Homo sapiens: one gene and its partners. The protein of the gene in region 1 purifies or fractionates together with the protein of each later gene. This does not show direct contact. Each region holds a gene or a part of one and is shown in the gene's direction. Other genes may lie near its edges. The genes, in order: ASF1B, UBN2, NASP, UBN1, MCM6, IPO4 and CABIN1.

Region 1 (3,500 bases):
TGAGACAGGAGAATCGCTTGAACCTGGGAGGCAGAGATTGCAGTGAGCCAAGATCACACCATTGTACTCCAACCTGGGTGACAAGAGTGAAACTCCATCTCAAAAAAGAAAAAAAAAATTAGCTAGGCGTGGCAGCGGGCACCTATAATCCCAGCCACTCGGGAGGCTGAGGTATGAGAATCACTGGAACCTGGGAGGCGGAAGTTGCAGTGAGCTGAGATCGCATCACTGTATTCTAACCTGTGTGACAGAACGAGACTCCATCTCAAAAAAAAAAAAAAATACAAGAGCCTATCCCTGCCTTCTTGCTGTTGAGCTATTTCAATTAGTTAACCCTCCTATATCTTTGCAGACCTGGAGTGGAAGATCATTTATGTTGGCTCGGCTGAGAGTGAGGAATTTGATCAGATCCTAGACTCGGTGCTGGTGGGCCCTGTGCCAGCAGGGAGACACATGTTTGTCTTTCAGGTAAGAAAGATGAGGCCTTAGGCCTTAGCCCTTGATTCCTAGAAACATCCTCTTTTACCTGAAATCCCACAGAGTGCTTCAGGAATCAAAAGTTCAAGTTCAGCTGGGCACGGGCTCACGCCTATAGACCCAGCTACTCCAGGGACTGAGGTGAGAGGATTGCTTGAGCCCGGGAGTCTGAGGCTGCAGTGAGCCACTGCACTCCAGCCTAGGCAACACAGTGAGACCCTGTCTCTAAAAAAGAAAAAAACAAGTATTAAAAACATAGAGGCCGGGCACAGTTGCTCACACCTGTAATCCCAGCACTTTGGGAGGCCGAGGTGGGAGGATTGCTTGAGGCCAGGAGTTTGAGACCAGCTGGGGCAATATAGTGAGACCGCATCTCTACAAAAAATGTAAAAATCAGCAGAGCATGGTGGTGTGCGCCTGTAGTCTCAGATACTTGGGAGGCTGAAATGGGAGGATCACTTGAGCCTGGGAGATGGAAGCTACAATGAGCCAAGACCACACCACTGCACTCCAGCCTGGGCAACAGTAAGACCCAGTCTCAATCAATCAATTAAAACAATTTAAAAGTTCAGGTTCAAATCCTAGTTCTACTGTCAGGAACTATCTGACCTCTCAGAGGCCGTCAGGCCCTCCCTTCCCCCACCTCTGTGTCAAAGCTGCCACTGATTTACAGGCAATTCCCATTATTTACAAGAGTTACGTTCTATAAAGTTGCCGCGAACACTGAATTAGTGAATACTGAACCATTGCCCCAGGGGAAATACAGGGTTAGATTCTTGGAAGTCACATTTTCGTCAGCTGGTTAATACGTAAACTTGTATGTGTGTTTATGTTGAAAAGACACCAGGACGGCTATGATGGCTCAAACCTGTAATCCCAGCACTTTGGGAGGCTGAGGTGGGTGGATCGCCTGAGGTCAGGAGTTCAAGACCAGCCTGGCCAATGTGATGAAACCCCGTCTCTACTAAAAATACAAAAATCAGCCAGGTGTGGTGGCGCATGCCTGTAATCCCAGCTACTCGGGAGGCTGCGGCGGGAGAATCGCTTGAACCTGGGAGATGGAGATTGCAGTGAGCTGAGATCGCACCAGTGCACTCTAGCCTGGGTGATACAGCGATACTCTGTCTCAGAAAAAAAGGAAAGATACCTTATTTAATATATACAGTGGTTCATTTATGTTGAATTCACAGCCAACAGCACTATAACTCTCCTGAATGAAACTTCTCTAATACGCATATTTTCCATAAAGCCTTTCTTGTATCCTACACTGCACTTCAGCACTACCGTTGGGTGCCATCATAGACAGCAAACTCACCAACAAAAAGCACAAAACATGGAAAAAAGCACTAAGTAGGCTGAGGAAAGGACGCTCATTCACAGTGAGAGCTGAGACCAGAAGACAGAGTGTTGCCTTGTTTGACCTCAGGTGGGAACAGGCGTGGTAGGTAACTCTAGGTGGGAACAGGCATGGTAGGTAACTCCAGTTTTTCCCTGCTCTGTGCATGTCTGCAAGTGACTGTGAAAGCAAGCAGGTGTTCATCTTGGGGTTACAAATAAACTTAGCAGGTAGGTGAACTTGCACATATGGAACCCATGAATAATGAGGATGGACTGTAACTCCTAAATGGCTCTCATGCAGCACCCCACCTGGGTTGTCAAATGTAGATTCTGGCCGGGTGTGGTGGCTTCCAGCACTTTGGGAGGCAGAGGCGGGAGGACTGCTTAAGGCCAGGAGTTCCAGACTAGCCTGGGCCACATAGCGAGACCCCCATCTCTACAAAAAATAGAAAAATTAGCCGGGTGTGGTGGCTTGCACCTGTCGTCCCAGCTACTTGGGAGGCTGAAGCAGGAGGCTTGCTTGAGCCTGAGAGTTTGAGGCTACAGCGAGCTATGATTGCACCTCTGCACTGCATTCTGGGTGACAGCGAGACCTGTCTCTACAAAAAAAACATTAACCAGGCATAGTGATGCAGGCCTGTAGTGCCAGCTACTAGGGAGGCTGAAGCAGAAGACTCACTTGAGGCCAGGTGCCATGGCTCACACCTGTAATCTCAACACTTTGGGAGGCTGGGGCAGGCAGATCACTTGGGGTCAGGAGTTAAAGACTAGCCTGGCCAACATGGTGAAACCCTGTCTCTACTAAAAAATACAAAAATTAGCTGGATGTGGTGGTGCACATTTGTTATCCTAGCTACTCGGGAGGCTGAGGCACGAGAATTATTTGAATCCAGGGGGCGGAAGTTACAGTGAGCTGAGATTGCGCCACTGCACTCGAGCCTGGGCAACAGAGTGAGACCCTGTCTCTAAAAAAAAAAAAAAAAAAAAATAGGCTCGCTTGAGCCCAGGAGTTCCAGGAGTTTACAGTGATCTGTGATTGCACCACTGCACTCCAGTCTGGATGACAGAGGGAAAAGCTATCTCTTTAAAAAAAGAAGGCCGGTGCAGTGGCTCACGCCTGTAATCCCAGCACTTTGGAAGGCCAAGGTGGGCGGATCACAAGGTCAGGAGATTGAGACCATCTTGGCTAACATGGTGAAGCCCCATCTCTACTAAAAAATACAAGAAATTAGCCAGGCCTGGTGGCGGGCACCTGTAGTCTCAGCTACTCAGGAGGCTGAGGCAGGAGAATGGCGTGAACCTGGGAGGCGGAGCTTGCAGTGAGCCGAGATCACGCCACTGCACTCCAGCCTGGGTGACAGTGAGACTCCATCTCAAAAAAAAAAAAAAAAAAAAAGAAGAAAGAAAAAACAAATGGAGATTCTGAGTTCTCCAGGTGATTTTTCAGGATCCTCTGCTCGGATACACTCCCTTACCTCCATCACTGCTGTTACCGCCCTAATCCAAGCTACCACATCCTATCTAACCCCTTCAGCCACCACTACTAAATCCACTGACAGGCCCTATCTACTCAACAGTCAGGACTGGCCTCCTGGGTGTGCAACCCAGGCAGCTGCACAGGACCCCACACTTGGTGCGATACTCTGCTGTCACCGTCTGAAACCTAATAGCTTTTCTGGAGGGGC
Region 2 (2,250 bases), on another chromosome or scaffold:
CCATGAAAGAGGTGGAGCCATCAGCTGCTCAGGTTGTAAGAAAATGGGAGACGGAAGGCAGGATTCACTTTCTAACTGGGTCGGGGTGGGGAAGGTCAGGGTAGAAGGAAACATGTTTTCCCCAGCTCCCAGGAGGAGACGAAGATCATTTTATCCCACCTTCCATCCCTGTATATTAAGTAGTACTACTACATAGAATTTTCCCGTTATCGTTTAAAATAATAGCAACAGGAAAAGAAAAATGGATGCTGCAGTTTTAGTTGGGGCTAAATGCTGAGCAACGATTGTTGGAGTGTGTGTGTAAATTTAAATTGTAGCACATATTCAGGGTCAGGAAAGCAAAATGTTGGGGATGAGGAACCAGTGTTACCAGGTTCAAGTGAGTTAGTAGAAAGCACCAGGTCCAAGCAGACAAAGCATCTGGTTAATTTCCAGAATTGGCTAAGGTCCACTGAATCTCTAATGATAGGGTGTGTGTGTGTGTGTGTGTGTGTGTGTGTGTGTCTGTAAGTCACTTTTTGGATTTTTGTTGCTTTTTCCAGATAAGGCCTTAGTAGCCTCTAAATATCAACTATGCAGATAAACATACTCCTTTTTTTTTTCACATGTCCCTGTCTTTTCCATTCTCAGATAACAAATGTTAAGACCCAAAGAAATAAGGCATAAGGGTTTTTGTTGAATGTGTGTTTGTTCTTCTAGGGAAAATTAACAGAAGCATAAAATAGAGATACTTTGTGTGTTCATCTATCGTAAAATGTGAACTCTGTATTCAAAAACTATCTACAGATGCTTTCACTGGTGCAAAGCTGTAGTTAGTATCATGGAATGTCTTTGGGTTGTTAATGATAAAATCATCCCAGTGTTCAATTCTGAGAGTTTTAGATTATATGACACAATGTTCAGGTTTATAGAGCTGAATGGGTGATCAAACTCTAATTAAAAATAGCTTTGAATATTAATGTTGAATTCTTCTTTCTTGGTTTCCTTTAGTCTTCATTCTTTATTCAGAGCTCTTAATCATATTGCTACACTAGAATATGAATTGTATATTAGGAGTCTGGGGAGGAAAGGTTAAATTGTCTTTTACATCCTCTTCTCACTCACTCTGGCAACCTATCCTGTGTCCCCATAGAACTGAGAAGTAAAGCCCTGTGCAGGCCTGCTTTAGAAGACTTTACATCCCAGCAGAGGATTCAGGCAGGGACTCTCAGGATTTTAATCAGACTGCCTTTGAATAATGTGATATTAAATTTTATTTTTCTCATAGACTCTCAAAGTACCACTTGCTTGAAAGTAGCTACTTGTGATCTTTAATTTCCTTATATTGTGATAGTTCTACTTTTCAGTCTTTCCTGTGTATCTCCATTTCATAGTGCGTTAGTACTTAAACTTCGGACACTTTTCCAAACTGTTAAACAAGTCAGGAATGCTTTTCAGAATCGCAGTAGTATTATTAGGGTCTCTGTGTCTAGGACTTACAGTCATCAGTGGTCATCACTGGGACTAGAGGTGTTCTTTTTTTTCCTCTTCTCCTTTGTATTAAAAAATAGATTTTGCTACTGTATAATGCGGCATTTCATGACTTCCTCTTGTTACTTTTCAAGGTTATTCTAAAGAGATGGAGATCTTCATTAGAGGCTATTTCTCATAATAGTCTGCCTTGCTTATTTTCATACTCCCCCTGAAATAAGCCTACTTTTGCAAACAGGCCATATGAATCAAATTTTATGTTTGTTCCTCACAAAATTTTCTACACATTATTTGTTCCCACTTTGCTAATAATAATATAATGATTTTATTGTAAATCTGTGTTTTAAATATTTTATAACAGAGCACTAATGGAAACCTAATAAATACAAACAAGATAACTATTACCCAAGATAACATGGAAATACTTCTGTTTTTGAAGTTAACAACACCGTCTGCCCTCAAAGCACATTTAGGAGTATCAACCAAGACCAGCCAGTTGACATGTTTTTCTGTGTGGCAACCTGCCCTTAAATTGTCAGATCTTAACTATCTTGTGTTTGCTGTGCTTGCAGCCATAAGCTTTCCTCCTTTTTTGCTTATCCCTGCTGTTTGTAGGGTTAGTGTGCCCTCTGTCAGAAAATTGGGTTTTCTTTACTATACCTGCAAAATTACCAAGGGTTACCCCAATATTGTCTAGAGGAATTAAAAAGAACTTATTCTCAGTTGACAAAAGTATTACTGTTATACATAGTTAATTGGAAAGTTGGCCAACTTTGGTCA
Region 3 (3,500 bases), on another chromosome or scaffold:
ATGGTGCAGTCAATGGACCGTCAGTTGTAGGAGATCAGACTCCTATTGAACCACAGACTTCTATAGAAAGACTGACAGAAACAAAAGATGGCTCAGGACTAGAGGAGAAGGTCAGGGCAAAGCTGGTTCCTAGTCAGGAGGAGACTAAGCTGTCTGTAGAAGAGTCTGAGGCAGCTGGAGATGGGGTTGATACCAAGGTAGCCCAGGGAGCTACTGAGAAATCACCTGAAGACAAAGTTCAGATAGCTGCTAATGAAGAGACACAAGAGAGAGAAGAACAGATGAAAGAGGGTGAAGGTAACCGGGATATGCAAGAGCTGCAGTGGGTGGAGTACATTCTGGATTTGACTCACTAATTATGGGTAAAAGTCAGCCTTCCATTCAGGATTTTCCGTCTGCCTTTGGATTAGGAAAGGGCTAAATGAAAAGGGGGGTAGTTTAACAAGGTCGTGATAGTCAAGTAAGTTCAATCAAAAGCAGCAAGTCTTCTTTAGCTGGCTTATAAACTAACACTTTTACTAACTGCAAAATAGGCCTTCTGTGTGATTTCTGAGACTTGGCTAGCTATCAGTAACTTGTTGCAGCATACTAGCCAATAAAGTGGGATGGAAAAGGTAGATGAGGGGTGGGGTAGGTAGGGAAATAGTGGGCTAGGCTGGCAGAGAATGCTGAATGGATGTTCACTTGCATGCCTCTGGATTTTAAAATTATTGTTCACATGACTCCTTTTCTGTGCGTTGGGAAGCAGCTACAGAGCAGTAGAATCCACTGAATTGGTACACTGAAGCAGGCATGCCATTTAAATGAAGGCAGTTAACCTTGACTGTTGTATCACCAGAGTTAAAGAATTCTGGTGCCCCTCTTTAAGTCTTCAGGAAGTGTTTAGAGGCTTATTCACATTAGTTAAAACAGGCCCCCCCCACCTTCCCCAAGGCAACAGAAAACATAACCATTAGCTCTCTTCCTGTTTTCCTTCCTCATTTCATGCTTGCTTCGGCTGCTAAACTGAATTTTTGTTACTTAGAATATTATAAAGTGTGGATGCTTTCTATAATGCTATTGGTCTAAGTGTGATTAAATTTCATTAAGGTGTATAAGCCTCTAATTATTACATAACTGGCACGTCTGACTTTTGCTATCATTTGAGGATTCTACTGTATATAAGTTTCATCTAACATTGGCATTAATAACCACAGGTATATTCCAACTAATTGTTACTTCTTGTAATTGCCAGACTACTTCAAGAGTTCTCGTAAGTTTTAGATTTTCAGAGACCCATCTTCAATACTTTGAACTCATTCTGGTAAACTTCCTTCTACCTATGTGCAGGTCCCTGTACTCCAGCCAACACAGGCTCAGTAACTGGAAATGAATTGGCTAAAATGGTAGCACCATTGGGTTTCTTAATGGAGCTTTAGGAGTTCTTTATGGAAAAAAGCACAGAACTAAATTCCTCAAAAAACAAACAAACAAAACCACACACACAAAAAAACAAAACTCCCATGTCTTGATCTTAATGATTGTGAGCAAGGATGGTAAAAAGCTCTGCTGGCTGACCCCTAAGACCTTGAATGGTAAGCTACAATACAGATATCACAGTCCCTTACAGATTGTTCGAAAACTCGTTGGATCATAATTAACATTGTTAGAACTCTCATACATTACATCTGATCCTAAAACAATACTATGTGATAGGTAGTATTGCCCAAGTTACAGTGATGAGGTTGAGGTTTAAAGGTTACATGACTTGTTTAGGGTCATAATACTGAATCTGAACCCAGATCTGCCTTGAATATATTATTCTTCCCAAGTTACCACACATTGAAGAAGACAGTGTTCATCCTTTTCCTACACCCACTGCTTAGAAATTTTGTCGTGGGCTGGGCGCAGTAGCTTCACACCTGTATCCCAGCACTTTGAGAGGCCGAGGTGGGCAGATCACATGGTCAGAAGTTTGAGACCAGCCTGGCCAATATGTTGAAACTTTGACTCTACTAAAAATACAAAAATTAGCTGGACGTGGTGGCATGCGCCTGTGGTCCCAGCTACTTGGGAGGCTGAACCAGAAGAATCGCTTGAACCCGGGAGGCAGAGGTTGCAGTGAGCTGAGATCATGCCGCTGTGCTCCAGCCTGGGCAACACAGCGAGTCTCTGTCTTCCAAAAGAAAAAAAAAATCTGTCACTTATTTAAAAAGTTAACTATATTTTAAAAGCCCCAGGCTTTTCATATGCTGCATTTTTTGGTGTTGTATATCAGATACTGTTCTGCTTGTAAAGACAATACAGTTTTCCATATTTTACAAAAGAAGAAATGGGAGAAAGGGGTTTAAGTAACTTGCCCTAGTCACACAGTAAGGAGAAGCCTGCTACCCAAACTTCTGGCTTGAGTACTCAACCACTTACTTTCTGTGCTTTATTTCCCTTTACGTGGCAGCACCATTCTGCAGAAAACTTCCAAGCAGTTTTTTTCACTTAAAAATTAAAACCCTGTTTACTGCCACCTCTTGACTCTTTGCCATGTGTTGGGCTGTACATTTGCTTCTAATAAAGATAATTGGTCTGTTCTTTTTCTCTTTGAATCGGGTCTTGCTCTTTTGCCAGGCTGGAGTACAGTGGCATCGCAGTCATGGCTCACGACAGCCTCAAACTCCTATGCTGAAGCCATCTTCCTCCCTCAGTCTCTCAGGCAGCTGAGACTATGGGTGTGTATCACCATGCCCAGCTGGGGTGCAGTGGTGCGGTCTCGCTCACTGCAACCTGCATCTCCCAGGTTCAAGCGATTCTCCTACGTCAGCCTCCTGAGTAGCTGGGACTAAAGGCACATGTCCCCAGGCCCGACTAATTTTTTTGTATTTTTACTAGAGATGGGATTTCACCATGCTGGCCAGGTTGGTCTCGAACTCCTGACCTCAGGTGATCCACTAGCCTCAGCCTCCCAGAGTGCTGGGATTACAGGTGTGAACCATTGCACCTGGCCCACCATACACCATTATCTTCTCATATCCACATTTCCAAGTGGGTCCGGGCTTAGTTCCCCAAAGTTAGACCAGATGGATGGTCTTATTAACTCTGCCCATCCTCTAGCAGAATATGCAGAAAAGCTGAAGTAGATTTACATATGTAGGATAATTGATAGAAAAGTAAATACTTCATCTTCCCAATTTGTAGGAAAAATTAAATTGATATTGTTATCTTCTATTCTTACCTGGTATCTCTTCCTACTCATACCAGAATACTAGAAGACAACCTCTAATTTGAAACAAAATATCTTAATTACTTGGAAGTTTTACATCAAATTTTTAAATTAAAATTCCTATAATTGCTTCAGAAGAATATTACTGGTTCCTCTTGAGGAATCTGTACCATCTTCAAGGAATGGTGGGGAGCTAGGTTAAGGAGAAAGCCATCGCCATTACTTTTTTTTTTTTTTTTTTTTTTTTTTTTGAGACAGAGTCTTGCTCTGTCACCCAGGCTGGAATGCAGTGGCGTGATCTAGGCTC
Region 4 (3,500 bases), on another chromosome or scaffold:
TTAACTTTGGTAGCACCGAGAGAAGTGCAAATTCAGACCTTTCTAAACAGTATGGCAGAACGGCTCTCAAGAACTTGCACCACATTCAGTGGGATTTTCACGTTTTTGAGCCCTTGACTATTTTGGAAGTCAATGGACTCTTTCTTAGAATGTTTTTAAATGCCTGAAGAAAATTTTAAGAGTTACAAAGGAAGTCCACTTTATTGAACGTGGTTGTGTAGCGACTGGGCATCTCCTTCTAAAGGCCCTTTGCTGTCTTTGAGTCCTGCAGCCCCTCATGCTGTGGTGGATGATTGTAGGCATTCAATCAAGTTTTATTAACCTACATTAAGGGAAATTTTACTTTCTTAATTAAGATAAACATTGATGAGATGGTAGCATGTTTTCTACCTTGCCCTTTTCTGGAAAACATTGTTTTTATAGAGGTATTGAGTAATCAGTGAAGTTTCTATGAATAAGAACATGGGAATATTTTCTGACTTATTTTTTGTGGAACGATCTCTTTACAGAAGAAAGATCTGTCAGATCCTTTCAATGACGAAGAAAAGGAAAGGCATAAAGTAGAGGCCCTTGCCCGAAAATTTGAAGAAAAATACGTAAGATTTCTCTCTTGAATAACAAAACAACCTCATTGGGTGGGAGACGTTTCCACACTGTATTCCTTTAGTGGATCATCATGTAATAAACACTGATCTGGAAGTAAGCCTTAAGCATGGAGAGAAGAGAAGCAGTTATTAAACCTAACGCATTAAGGTACAGAAAAGGGGCATGGCAGAGCTAGTGTGAAGAGCTAACTGGACAAATAACCGAGAAGGGCCTGTGGTCGCCTTAGAAGAAATATTTTGGTACAAAGCATAAGAAGCCATTTAGTTCATTTTTCTGTCCTAGGACATTTTATACAGGTACAAATATGTTCTATGTTAAAAGGTTTTCAGGAAAGGAGGTTTTGGGGTTTGTGTGTATGTGAGAGAGTGACTGTTTTAGTTAGTGCATTACCTCTTTGAGTCATAGCTGATGAAGTTCAAGGCCACAGTTAATTCTGTGTGTTTATTCAAAAAGCATGTAATCTATTGCTTTCACATTTTAGGGTGGAAAGAAACGTAGAAAAGACCGAATACAGGACTTGATCGATATGGGGTATGGTTATGATGAATCCGACTCCTTCATCGATAACTCTGAGGCGGTAAGTAGTTACTGAAAATGCCGTGTCAGACCCACTGTACCTGTAGCTCCTCCTGATACTGACCAGGAAGCTGGGGGTGGGGTCAGAGCAGTCGTGCCCTCTTCCCAGCATGAGGCAGTAGCAGCACTGATGAGAGACGAAATGACATTCTTTATCCGGGTCTTAGTTCCCTCTTCAGAAAGTGATGACCAGATCTGTCCAAAACACCTTGTAGCTCAGACATTCATGTTTGACCAGAGGATGTTTTAGCATGCTCTTGGAAGTGGCAGAGGAGCACAGTCACATCTCTCTCGAGACCCACTTTGCACCTTCGGACTGCAGAAGCAGAACTTGGAGCTGACAGTTTGTTTCCCATCTTCAGTATGATGAGCTTGTTCCTGCTTCTTTGACTACGAAGTATGGAGGATTTTACATTAACTCGGGAACCCTGCAGTTTAGACAAGCATCAGAGTCTGAAGATGACTTCATTAAAGAAAAGAAGAAAAAATCTCCAAAGGTTAGAATGTGCTTGCTTTTGGATTTCAGAAATGCTTTTTGACGTGACCCTATCAGATCAGTAGGTGACTTGCCAGAATACGTGGCGCTTGGCCGGCTCAGGAGGATGGTGGAAAGGCAGAGCCGTGCCAGGTTGATGGCTCGCCTCTTACACGTGTGCCCTAATGAGGACACGTGCCCGTGGGGGCTCTGTTCAGCACTTGGTCATTATGTCCATGTCACATGACATCCCAGCAGGCTCAGCAGGGGTCGTTTCTGGAGGTGGCCTCAGGGTGGGAAGGCTGTGGAATGAGGGAATGTGTACCACTCTTGCTGACCCTCTTCTGTGGACATGTAGAGGACTTCAGTTTCAGGGCTGCCATCCCACTGAAAACCAGTCAGCCTTAGGATCAGTGTGTTTAAAAACCTGTCTACCACTGCCTATGTGTTTAAGATGAGAGGTAGGGCCCACTTGTAACTTTCAAACTACAAAGGTTTCAGGCTCCAGAATGGTCACTGTTGTCTCAGCCCTGGGTGTTTCCAGGAGACACCGTCGGTGGGAATGCTGTGGGTTTGTGGTCCAGGGACTGATCTGAGAGCTTTTGTTCATGAAGGAAATGAGACAGGTCTCAGGATGTGCCCCGGGCGGAGCAAGGCCAGTGCCGTGTAGTGCACTTGCTCCCTGAGTTAGGGAGCCGTGTAACTGTGCCTTGTCTTTAATTCTCAGAAGCGGAAGTTGAAGGAAGGTGGTGAGAAGATAAAGAAGAAGAAAAAAGATGACACTTATGACAAGGAGAAGAAATCGAAAAAGTCCAAGTTTTCCAAAGCCGGGTGAGAGGCAGCAGCTTCTTTGCTAGGATAAAGCCTGAACTGTTAGGGCAGGACGACTGGGAGCTGACTCACCTCCTCCCCACAGCTTCGGAAGAGGCAGCAGGGCCTGGCCTTCCTGTCCTCCCGCACGCCTCCCGCAGTGCCATTCTGGGCATAGACGCTCACCTCTCAGTGTGTCAGATAGTTCCACTGTCAGTGTTGGCAGCTATTGTTGTCACTGTGTGACTGCTGATGTTTCTCGTCCTCTGGGGTGCTCCTCTCTGCCCCAGTTCTCCTTCTGTCTCCGCTGTTTTCCCTTGTTGTCTATGGTCATGCTTCCTTCTCCTCACTTGGTCTCACCCCAGCTTCTCTTCAAGTTGCTGCTGTTCTCTGCTGCTCCTGCTTTCTCCCTCTAAATACTTTTCTTGCTCTCCCTGCCCCTTTTTGCAACCTTTTATTTCAGCCTGGCAGTGGTTTCTAAAAACCCGTCGGAAATTTAGCATATGTGACACTGTGTTGCTAACCTGTATTAACTCTCAAGCTTTGGTCTCAGCAAGAACGAGCTCCATATGCCAAGAGGAGGGAGGAGGAATGACAGGGTGGACTGTGACAGGTTCTCCTGGAGACCATGACCCTGGGAGCAGGGGTGAAGGCCTCTGGAGTTCCCTTTGGAGGTGTCCTATAGTCTGAGTGACCAGTTTCCCTCTTGCTTGCAGCTTCACAGCCCTCAATGCCAGTAAGGAGAAGAAGAAGAAGAAATATTCTGGGGCTTTAAGCGTTAAAGAGATGCTAAAGAAATTTCAGAAAGAGAAAGAGGCTCAGAAAAAAAGGGAGGAGGAGCATAAGCCTGTTGCGGTCCCATCAGCGGAAGCTCAGGGCCTGCGGGAACTGGAGGGTGCCTCTGACCCCTTGCTCTCACTCTTTGGCTCTACTTCTGACAACGACTTGCTCCAGGCGGCCACTGCCATGGACTCGCTGACGGATTTGGACTTGGAGCATCTGCTCAGTGAGTCTCCAGAAGGAAGTCCCTTCC
Region 5 (3,159 bases), on another chromosome or scaffold:
CTCAGATCAGGGTCCAGAGTTGCTTTTCTAGTGGTGGGACATGTCTGTGTGCTCCTTGGGATCAGTGTAAAGTAAAACGACCCAGGCAAGGAATCTGCTTCAGGACTTTGGAACACACTGTGAAGCTAACTGATCTAAACTTGAATTACCTATTTATTTATTTATTTATTTATTTATCTTTTGAGAGAGTCTTGCTCTGTTGCCCAGACTGGAGTGCAGTAGCATGATCTCAGCTCGCCGCAACTTCCGCCTTCTGGGTTTAAATGATTCTCTTATCTCAGCCTCCAGAGTAGCTGGGATTACAGGTGCCCGCCACCACTCCCAGCTAATTTTTGTATTTTTAGTAGAGATGGTGTTTCACCATGTTGGCCAGGCTGGTCTCAAACTCCTGACCTCAGGTGATCCACCCACCTCAGCCTCCCAAAGTGCTGGGATTACAGGCATGAGCTACTGCGCTCAGCCTGGATTACCTTTTAAAATTTGGCTTACCACCTGAACTAATTTGCTACAGAAAACTAGAGAGCTTATACTGTGCTGATGAGATATGATGCTTCCTATGAAGGTATGTTAACACATAGAGTGAGTGCTTGAAAGTGTCCAATCTAACTTCAGGGGTAGATTTGAAAGGGCAATTTTTTAAAAAGTGTCCAGTCCCCCTTAGTGGCTTCAGTGTTTATACTGTGGAGCCTTGCCAGACTTCTTAGGATCAAATCACAGTTTCCTGAGTTCCTTTCTATGGGCTTGGCTAGGAGCTCTTCTCATTTGTGGACAGTTTTGACTAACCTGTAATTATATCGTGGGCTTAAAATCTGTCATCAAGATTTTAAGCCAGATGGCATGTTCTACCTTTTTTTTTATTAGCTCAGAGTGAAAAATTTTTCAGATGAATTTTCATAGATTCTTCTCCTAACTCTATGAAATGGTGGTATATGAAAAAGTTCAGTGGTCATAATTAAAAATTGCTGAATGATATTAAGTATGAAACAGACTTCCAATTAATTAGAAGATTTTGCAGAGTTGTTTAACCTTAAAATTCAAGCATTACTTCCTTTTTTGAAGTTGTATTTACAAGCATTTGATGTAATATATTTAAGTATTTCTTAATTTTCCACAAGGGGTTTATGGTATGAAAAGGTCAGCATCCTACTAGGAACAGGGTTTAGCAGAGCACTGATAGTGATTTTTAAAGTGTGGTCCTTTTCCTAGGAGTTTCTAGTTGGGAAATGAAAGAAAATGTTGATAGCAAACACTCGGAAGAAGGGTCAAGTCTTGTATATCTGGACATTGGTATAATACTGCTTGAAACCTGAGGACAAATATTTGTGTTTCACAGGATCATGTTCTAATTGAGCTCACCCAGGCTGGATTGAAAGGCTCCACAGAGGGAAGTGAGAGCTATGAAGAAGATCCCTACTTGGTAGTTAACCCTAACTACTTGCTCGAAGATTGAGATAGTGAAAGTAACTGACCAGAGCTGAGGAACTGTGGCACAGCACCTCGTGGCCTGGAGCCTGGCTGGAGCTCTGCTAGGGACAGAAGTGTTTCTGGAAGTGATGCTTCCAGGATTTGTTTTCAGAAACAAGAATTGAGTTGATGGTCCTATGTGTCACATTCATCACAGGTTTCATACCAACACAGGCTTCAGCACTTCCTTTGGTGTGTTTCCTGTCCCAGTGAAGTTGGAACCAAATAATGTGTAGTCTCTATAACCAATACCTTTGTTTTCATGTGTAAGAAAAGGCCCATTACTTTTAAGGTATGTGCTGTCCTATTGAGCAAATAACTTTTTTTCAATTGCCAGCTACTGCTTTTATTCATCAAAATAAAATAACTTGTTCTGAAGTTGTCTATTGGATTTCTTTCTACTGTACCCTGATTATTACTTCCATCTACTTCTGAATGTGAGACTTTCCCTTTTTGCTTAACCTGGAGTGAAGAGGTAGAACTGTGGTATTATGGATGAGGTTTCTATGAGAAGGAGTCATTAGAGAACTCATATGAAAGCTAGAGGCCTTAGAGATGACTTTCCAAGGTTAATTCCAGTTGTTTTTTTTTTTTTTTAAGTTTATAAAAGTTTATTATACTTTTTTAAAATTACTCTTTAGTAATTTATTTTACTTCTGTGTCCTAAGGGTAATTTCTCAGGATTGTTTTCAAATTGCTTTTTTAGGGGAAATAGGTCATTTGCTATATTACAAGCAATCCCCAAATTTTATGGTCTTCCAGGAAAAGTTATTACCGTTTATGATACTAACAGTTCCTGAGACTTAGCTATGATCAGTATGTTCATGAGGTGGAGCAGTTCCTGTGTTGCAGCTTTTAACAACAGATGGCATTCATTAAATCACAAAGTATGTTAAAGGTCACAAAAGCAAAATAACTGTCTGAGGCTAAGGCCCACGTGGGACAGTCTAATACCCATGAGTACTCAACTTGCCTTGATGTCTGAGCTTTCCAGTGCAATGTGAATTTGAGCAGCCAGAAATCTATTAGTAGAAAGCAAGACAGATTAATATAGGTTAAAACAATGATTTAAATATGTTTCTCCCAATAATTATCTCTTTCCCTGGAATCAACTTGTATGAAACCTTGTCAAAATGTACTCCACAAGTATGTACAATTAAGTATTTTAAAAATAAATGGCAAACATTAAAAACAAGAGTGAATACTCAAGTAGATTTGTCATGGGATTTTTATAAGAAGACTGGTATCAGGTAATGTATCTTTAAAGACTAGGCTGCTCTGCTGACGTAGTAACCATTTTTTATTCCTTTACTTTCCTAATAGCCTTGCTTTCACTTAAGAAAAAAAAAGGCTAGGCACGGTGGCTCACGCCTGTAATCCCAGCACTTTGGGAGGCCAAGGTGAGTAGATCACCTGAGGTCAGGAGTTCGAGACAAGCCTGGCCAACGTGGAGAAAACCTGTCTCTACTAAAAGTACAAAAATTAGCCAGGCATGGTGGTGGGCACCTGTAATCCCAGCTACTCAGGAGGTTGAGGCAGGAGAATTGCTTGAACCCAAGAGGTGGAAGTTGCAGTGAGCTGAGATCATGCCACTGCCCTCCAGCTTGGGCGGCAACAACAACAACAAAAAAAGATTCCCAGGCTTCACCCTCTACAGTCTATGGAAAGTCATGGGAGTCTATTAAAAAAAAACAG
Region 6 (3,049 bases), on another chromosome or scaffold:
GACCAGGCGGTCCAGGCAGTCTCCACAGGGACAGGGGTGGACAGTGTATTTGGGCTTGGCCTGGGGCAGCCAGGGCCACTAAAAGAGACTGGTAATGGCCAGAGGGATACAACCCTGATCCCACTAAGCCAGTGGGAGTTCAGGGAAGGAGAGCAGTGTGGACTGGGGTGTGCTTGGAGTGATAGGTAGGAGCAGAAGAGCCAGGGGAAGAAGCTGGGTCATGGAAACACCCAGCTTGAGAGGGGCCAGCCCTATCAACCAAGGGCAGCCCCAGGGACCCCTGCAGCTGGTGGCAGAGCGTGGGAGGGAGGTGTACAGTCACTGAGCTGGCCCTGGTGCTCCAGCCCCTGACCTGGCTCCACAGGCTGAATACGACGCCATGTTGCTGGAGCACGCTGGAGAGGCCATCCCTGCCCTGGCAGCCGCGGCTGGGGGAGACTCCTTTGCCCCATTCTTTGCCGGTTTCCTGCCATTATTGGTGTGCAAGACAGTGAGTGTCCATCTTCTGGCTTCAAGCCCTAGTCCCCTCGTGCACCCGGTGCCCACCACAGCCTTTATCCTTGGCCCAGGCTGATCTGTACTCCTTCCTGTTCTCCCCCATCAGAAACAGGGCTGCACAGTGGCAGAGAAGTCCTTTGCAGTGGGGACCTTGGCAGAGACTATTCAGGGCCTGGGTGCTGCCTCAGCCCAGTTTGTGTCTCGGCTGCTCCCTGTGCTGTTGAGCACCGCCCAAGAGGCAGACCCCGAGGTGCGAAGCAATGCCATCTTCGGGATGGGCGTGCTGGCAGAGCATGGGGGCCACCCTGCCCAGGAGTATCCTTGGCTCGCAGGACGGGAGGGACTGGAGGTTGGGGGAGTGTCCCCAGGGCTTGCAGGTGGGCAAGGTCTACCTGAGCGTGTGGCCATTCCTTGACTGTGGACCAGACACTTCCCCAAGCTGCTGGGGCTCCTTTTTCCCCTCCTGGCGCGGGAGCGACATGATCGTGTCCGTGACAACATCTGTGGGGCACTTGCCCGCCTGTTGATGGCCAGTCCCACCAGGAAACCAGAGCCCCAGGTGAGGGAGGGAGACATCAGGCAGGGCTTGGAAGCTGAGGAGGGAGGGTGGTGGAGGGCAGGGCAGGTTGGCCTGAGACATTTGTGTGCCCAGGTGCTGGCTGCCCTACTGCATGCCCTGCCACTGAAGGAGGACTTGGAGGAGTGGGTCACCATTGGGCGCCTCTTCAGCTTCCTGTACCAGAGCAGCCCTGACCAGGTAACCTTGCTGCTGGCAGCCCTCAGAGGGGAACGTGCCGCTCCACTCAGTGATAGGCACTGTCTGCTGATGAGGCTCGGGAGCTCCAGGCTGTCAGTTGCACCTGATGCAAGGTGACAGTTTCAGCTGTTCTTTTGGTACTCCCTGCACCATTTCTTATTTGTCTGCAAGGATTGGCAGCCAGTCCTGTGATGGGACAGGAGGGACTTCCTTTCTCCACGTAGCATTTTTCCTGAGGAAGCTCCATTTCTACCCTTTGGTCTGAGCCAGAAGTTGCAGTTTTCCTAGGCTGGTTTCCTAAACCGGGGCCCTTTCAAACTGTGCTCTGTGGAGCCCAGGGTACCTCTGGGCCACCACACCATACATTTCAATCAGATCAGCTCTGCTCTCTGAAGAGATTTTGCCTGTACCAAGTAGCTAGGTTTGGAGTCATGTCAGAGTGTTTGTGTCACCCTTGTCTTATACCTTTAGAGACTGTTGTGTAGGTGAAGCTCCTGAGTGTCTGGGTTTCTTTAGGTCTTGAGGCTATGACTTTAATCATCTTGTCCCACATCCCCCATTCCCTCCAAAAAAAATCATTAGCACCAAGTTTCATTGGTTCTTCTCATGTTCATAGTTGTCTTGGATGCCTGTGAATCAGTACCAGGTGCAACCACCCCCCTGATAAGAGATTCTGCCACTCCTTGGTCCTGACCACCCTCCTAGACCTGGGGTCTGGGGCTGCTGCCCTGAGTCAGCCACTCTTTCCTCACAGGTTATAGATGTGGCTCCCGAGCTTCTGCGTATCTGCAGCCTCATTCTGGCTGACAACAAGATCCCACCAGGTGAGGGTAGGAGTCATAGGCAGGGGCTTGCGGGAGGCTGGGAGTGGCAGGGCTCAGAGAGCCTGGGGCAGCGAGGCTTTAGGAGCCCCGACCTTTCTCCCTCCCTCTCCACCCAGACACCAAGGCCGCACTGTTGCTGCTCCTGACGTTCCTGGCCAAACAGCACACCGACAGCTTTCAAGCAGCTCTGGGCTCACTGCCTGTTGACAAGGCTCAGGAGCTCCAGGCTGTACTGGGCCTCTCCTAGACTGCAGGCTGCAGCCAGTCCAGAGAGAATAGAGCCTGCCCAGGCCTTAAGACCACCTCTCAGCCCAGTTCAGTTCTGCCTTACCAAAGATTCTGAGACTCATACCCATTTGGAGCCAGCCCCACTTGCTGCCTTACAGGGCTGTCCCTGAGGCTGGATCTGTTACAAATGAGTCATGACATCATACTGTAATAAAAGCAGCTTGTTTTCTGCTTGAACAATAGCTCTGAGAGCAAGAAGGCTGGAAATGCACATTCAGAAATGAGGTAAGCAGGACCCAGTGAGGCACGACGTGGTTTACTAGAAGTGGCCGGTTTCCTGGCAGCTTTGTAAATGGACTCTAACCTCAGTGGAATCTGGGCCCCGGCTGGATCAGGAGGCGACCATATGGCTTTTCTTGTTTCACGTGAAGAATCTGTTGCGCTGAGAGCACTGGTCAAGAGGCGAGGAGAGGGCAGGTCGGGGGAGTCCCTGTACGGGCCTCTGGTCTCTGTGTCCCTGCCCCACATACACACACACACATGCATACACTCACCCAGGAGCAGGTAGAAGACCCGGGCAGCCATCCTGCGGGGGCTGAGAGGTGACACCAGGCTGCTGAAGTCGGGCTCCCTGTTAGCCTGCAGCTCCAGTGCCACTGCCCTATAGGGATCAAGAACCATTAGCAGAGGCTTCAGCCCGGGTCCACCCCATCAAGGTGCCACCTCCCTGGTACCTGTGCAC
Region 7 (3,825 bases), on another chromosome or scaffold:
GGCCCCAGCTTTGTACCGGGAGCTGTCACTCCTGCTGACCAAGGAGGGGAGCTGGCTCCCCCTGCTGGAGAGGATGGAGGGCCTCCTGGCAGAGGAGCGGGATGGGGAGGCGGTGGGGTGGCTGGAAAGGCAGTGGTTGATGACCAGTGTGGTGGGAGAGTCCAGACCTGAGTGAGAAGGTGGGGAGCAGCAAGGGAAGTGAGGGCCTGGAGGCCTGGGAACCGGGGACCGATGCTGAGTAGTCACCTGGCCAGCAGCCACAGGCACAGCATTTGCCCCTCAGGCCCATCCCGGCCTTGGCCCAACTGAGCCCAATTCCTGGCCCCTGCCTCAGGCCAGGGAAGGTGTGGCTGGCTGGGCAGGAGCCATAGTGCCAGCGTCTACTTTGGTCTTAGTTGGGTTGTTTGGATTTTGGTCCTGACCTCGTTTCTGAATGCTGCTTATGTGAGCTGGAGGGAGAGTGGACACTGCCCCCCCATCCCCTCTCACTGCCTTGTGATGGGATCTTAAGAGAGGCTGGGCCTCGAAGACTCAGGTGTGGCCCCACTGGGTCAGGTGTATAGCCCTCTCGGGAGGCGGAGGAGCCCTCTGGGGGTGGGGAGCCAGCCCCTACCAGTGTCCTCTTGGGTGGTGAGTGGTTTCTTGGCAGCACCAACCTGGACTGCCTCAGCCAGGACCCCAGCATTGGCCACACTCCCCTGCCCAGTGTCCCAGGGCACAACCTGGGCCCATAGGACCTGACACAGATGCGTTGGAGCCTGCGGGGTGGATGAGTCTATTACCTGCAGTGAGCCCATGTCCCCACAGAGGGAGAAGAGCTGGCGAGAGTGGCAGAGGGCACCAGCTTCCCGCCTCAGGAGCCACGGCACAGTCCGCAGGTGAAGATGGCCCCCACAAGTTCCCCGGCAGAGCCACACTGCTGGCCGGCAGAGGCTGCCCTGGGCACAGGCGCTGAGCCCACCTGCAGCCAGGGTAAGGCGAGTTGGGAGCAGCCCAGCACCAGCCCCCAGGAGGCTGCCTCACAGCTGGCAGCCAGGGTGGGTTTCCCGGCCTGGCCTTGAAGGGCAGGGCCTGGGGATGCCCCATGGAATGAGATGGGGAGGAAATGGGGGTAGTGCAGGCTGGACAGGGGAGCCAAGGGAGAGGCCCAGGCTGAAGAGTTTAATGCGTGGCCCATTGTGTCAGGGGCTGGGTAGAGAGGGACCCCAGAGGCTTATTCCACCCCTGGCATCACGGAGGGGTACTAGCGAGGGCAGGCGGCCTGCTTGGGCCCACTGCAGAACCCAGGCTGAGCCCAGAGTGGGGAAAGAGGAGTAGGCATGGACAGGGCGGAGCATGGGCCTGGTGACAGACACTTGAGGGACATCAGCAGCAGGCAGAAGGGTGGACAGGTTGGGCTGGGCCAAGCAGGCGTCCCCGTCGACAGCCACGTCAGATTCTAGCCCTGGCCTCAGTCCGGCCTGTTCCCACCAGCTGCCCCAACCAGCCAGACCCCTTGGGGACTCCTCCTGGCCTGGGCCTCCCACAGACCACTTGGGATGGCAGGACCTGGCGCCAGCCCCTGGGGGCCAGGCATGGGCTCTGTGTAAACCCCATTCCTTTTAAAGCCATGGGGCTGCAGAGGAATGTGGAGACGAGCCAGGCCAGCCGGGTCCTCCCAGCTCGTGCAGCTCCCTAGAGGCTGCCAGGCCTGCAACTGGCCCAGCCTTCAGGCTCTGGGCAAACTCAGCCCCTTGCTCCCACTGGAGGATGAGGCGAAAGTGGATGCCCTGGGGCCAGCTCAGTGACCATGCCTGGCTGAGCGACCAGCTCTGGGCTTCAGTGTCCTCCCTGGGGCATAGACACCAATAGGACATGCATCCTAGGATGGTTGTGGAAATACGACAGTTCATGCAAGCATGATGCCTGGAGGTCTTACAGAACCCAGCAAGGCTCAGGGAGTCTCAGGTCCTGGGCTTTGAGTTCATGGTGTTACTGGGTAAGGTTCACAGTCCCAGCACCCCACAGCTCAGAGCCAGAGTTGGGTCCCTGCAGGCCTGAGCCAAGTATTTGCCCAGGGTAGAAGCCTTGGAGCCTGCCAGCCAGCACAAACTACACAGCATAAAGGCCCAGGACCTGGGGGGAGCGGGTGGGGGCGAGATAAAGTGCTCACTGTGTGATGCGGCAGGCAGGAAGTGCTCTTGGTACCTTTGTCTTCCAGAGGGGAAACTGAGGCCTGAGCCGAGAAGGGATGGGGAGGCTCAGGAGGCTGCGAGTGAGACTCAGCCCCTGAGCTCTCCCCCAACAGCTGCCAGCTCCAAGGCCCCCAGCAGTGGGAGTGCCCAGCCACCAGAGGGTCACCCAGGCAAGCCTGAGCCCAGCCGGGCTAAGTCCCGCCCCCTGCCCAACATGCCAAAGCTGGTCATCCCCTCCGCCGCCACCAAGTTCCCCCCTGAGATCACCGTCACGCCACCCACCCCAACCCTGCTCTCCCCCAAAGGCAGCATCTCGGAGGAGACCAAGCAGAAGCTGAAGGTGACCTCAGGGGCTGGGCTGGAGCCATGTGTGGGTGGGAGGCATAGGTTACAAAGGGGGCCTAGGATGGGGGTGGGGGTGGCAGGAGGGCCTGGGGTGTGGGTGAGGATGGCATAGGGGCCTGGGGCAGGGGTGAGGGTGGGAGGGGGGCCTGGGGCAGGGGTGAAGGTGGCAGAGGGGCTTGGGGCAGAGCCCAGCCATCCTTGACCAGTGCCCCGCCCGGCCCTCTCCGCAGTCAGCCATCCTTTCTGCCCAGTCTGCTGCCAACGTGAGGAAGGAGAGCCTATGCCAGCCAGCCCTGGAGGTCCTGGAGACATCCAGCCAGGAGTCCTCGCTGGAGAGCGAGACAGACGAGGACGACGACTACATGGACATTTGAGGGGCCACTGCAGCCCCACCGCCACGCCCCAGGGGACCAGCCAGGCCTGGAATGCCCCCTGGGCAGGACCCTGGGCAGGACCAGAGGCCCACATGGATGCCACTCCCCACACAGCCCCCAGGCCTGCCCAGCCCACCTCCTCATGGCATCCTCCCTGTACCCAGGTCAGGCTGTCCACACCACATGGGAGCCCAGAGGAGGAGGGGCCCGCCTTAGCCATGTGAAGGTGGATTGGTCGCCATCTGCACGCCAGGCGGCATCCTTTTCTATGAAGTGTTGACTTTGTAAATCTGCCCACACCCAGCTGGCCATATCCACCCCTCGACGCCGGGATGAGCCGGCTCTGCCTGTGTCACAGTGGAGGGGTCCTTTAGGGCCAGGCTCACCCCTCACCCTTTTTTTGGTTGCTTTTCTAATAAAGATGGAACAGTTGTCTTTGCCTCTTTGCTCACCTCTAGGGGGCAATCTGGCAGAGTCTCTGGCGGAGAGTTGCTGTCCCCAGGGATTCTGGGCCTTTACTGCCATAGTCCATAGGGCAGGGCCTAGCCCCCCTCCTTCTCCAGCATCTCAGGGACCAGCCAGGCAACCAAAGCAGCGGCTGGGGGTGCCCAGTGGGGTAAGGAGAGAGCCGACTCGGGGCTGGGCCAGGCAGACGCCTCTAGTGCAGCTGGAGCCAGGCTTCAAAGGGGAGTTAGGTGCATCCCCAGAACGCACCTGGGTGCCAGTGGGTGGGAGGCTGTACGGTGGGAGGGCAGGCAGGGCTGGGGCAGCTGAGAGGCTGGGAGGAGGGGGCTGTCAGGGAGGGAAAGGGGGGATGGGGCCGGCAGGGAGGGTACTTAACTCCCATCACAGTCGCCCTAATGGGGCCAGTCACAGAATAGCTGGGCTCAGTGCAAGACATAAATATGAAGCTCCTTGATCAAAAAGGATTA

What was found.
Region 2: the proteins of ASF1B (region 1) and UBN2 purify together in Homo sapiens (affinity purification with mass spectrometry; 3 studies listed by BioGRID and IntAct, with this or other methods). This does not show direct contact.
Region 3: the proteins of ASF1B (region 1) and NASP purify together in Homo sapiens (affinity purification with mass spectrometry; 6 studies listed by BioGRID and IntAct, with this or other methods). This does not show direct contact.
Region 4: the proteins of ASF1B (region 1) and UBN1 purify together in Homo sapiens (affinity purification with mass spectrometry; 4 studies listed by BioGRID and IntAct, with this or other methods). This does not show direct contact.
Region 5: the proteins of ASF1B (region 1) and MCM6 purify together in Homo sapiens (affinity purification with mass spectrometry; 5 studies listed by BioGRID and IntAct, with this or other methods). This does not show direct contact.
Region 6: the proteins of ASF1B (region 1) and IPO4 purify together in Homo sapiens (affinity purification with mass spectrometry; 6 studies listed by BioGRID and IntAct, with this or other methods). This does not show direct contact.
Region 7: the proteins of ASF1B (region 1) and CABIN1 purify together in Homo sapiens (affinity purification with mass spectrometry; 4 studies listed by BioGRID and IntAct, with this or other methods). This does not show direct contact.

What each region holds. Positions count from the first base shown.
Region 1 is NC_000019.10:14,123,090-14,126,589, reverse strand, and holds part of ASF1B (histone chaperone ASF1B), read left to right. Parts: intron 1-352; coding exon 353-468; intron 469-3,500. UniProt on the Homo sapiens protein: Histone chaperone that facilitates histone deposition and histone exchange and removal during nucleosome assembly and disassembly. Cooperates with chromatin assembly factor 1 (CAF-1) to promote replication-dependent chromatin assembly.
Region 2 is NC_000007.14:139,304,237-139,306,486, forward strand, and holds part of UBN2 (ubinuclein-2), read left to right. Parts: 3' UTR 1-2,250.
Region 3 is NC_000001.11:45,608,041-45,611,540, forward strand, and holds part of NASP (nuclear autoantigenic sperm protein), read left to right. Parts: coding exon 1-297; intron 298-3,500. UniProt on the Homo sapiens protein: Component of the histone chaperone network. Binds and stabilizes histone H3-H4 not bound to chromatin to maintain a soluble reservoir and modulate degradation by chaperone-mediated autophagy.
Region 4 is NC_000016.10:4,857,481-4,860,980, forward strand, and holds part of UBN1 (ubinuclein-1), read left to right. Parts: intron 1-509; coding exon 510-596; intron 597-1,087; coding exon 1,088-1,183; intron 1,184-1,544; coding exon 1,545-1,679; intron 1,680-2,384; coding exon 2,385-2,488; intron 2,489-3,183; coding exon 3,184-3,500. UniProt on the Homo sapiens protein: Acts as a novel regulator of senescence. Involved in the formation of senescence-associated heterochromatin foci (SAHF), which represses expression of proliferation-promoting genes. Binds to proliferation-promoting genes.
Region 5 is NC_000002.12:135,839,126-135,842,284, reverse strand, and holds the end of MCM6 (DNA replication licensing factor MCM6), read left to right. Parts: intron 1-1,333; coding exon 1,334-1,450; 3' UTR 1,451-2,659; downstream 2,660-3,159. UniProt on the Homo sapiens protein: Acts as a component of the MCM2-7 complex (MCM complex) which is the replicative helicase essential for 'once per cell cycle' DNA replication initiation and elongation in eukaryotic cells.
Region 6 is NC_000014.9:24,179,719-24,182,767, reverse strand, and holds the end of IPO4 (importin-4), read left to right. Parts: intron 1-344; exon of another isoform or gene 345-364; coding exon 365-490; intron 491-604; coding exon 605-813; intron 814-924; coding exon 925-1,057; intron 1,058-1,150; coding exon 1,151-1,255; intron 1,256-1,844; exon of another isoform or gene 1,845-2,009; coding exon 2,010-2,079; exon of another isoform or gene 2,080-2,195; coding exon 2,196-2,326; 3' UTR 2,327-2,499; downstream 2,500-3,049. Other genes in the region: meiotic recombination protein REC8 homolog, read right to left, coding at 2,500-2,968, 3,042-3,049. UniProt on the Homo sapiens protein: Nuclear transport receptor that mediates nuclear import of proteins, such as histones, RPS3A, TNP2 and VDR. Serves as receptor for nuclear localization signals (NLS) in cargo substrates.
Region 7 is NC_000022.11:24,175,304-24,179,128, forward strand, and holds the end of CABIN1 (calcineurin-binding protein cabin-1), read left to right. Parts: intron 1-807; coding exon 808-972; intron 973-2,200; coding exon 2,201-2,514; intron 2,515-2,749; coding exon 2,750-2,893; 3' UTR 2,894-3,325; downstream 3,326-3,825. UniProt on the Homo sapiens protein: May be required for replication-independent chromatin assembly. May serve as a negative regulator of T-cell receptor (TCR) signaling via inhibition of calcineurin. Inhibition of activated calcineurin is dependent on both PKC and calcium signals.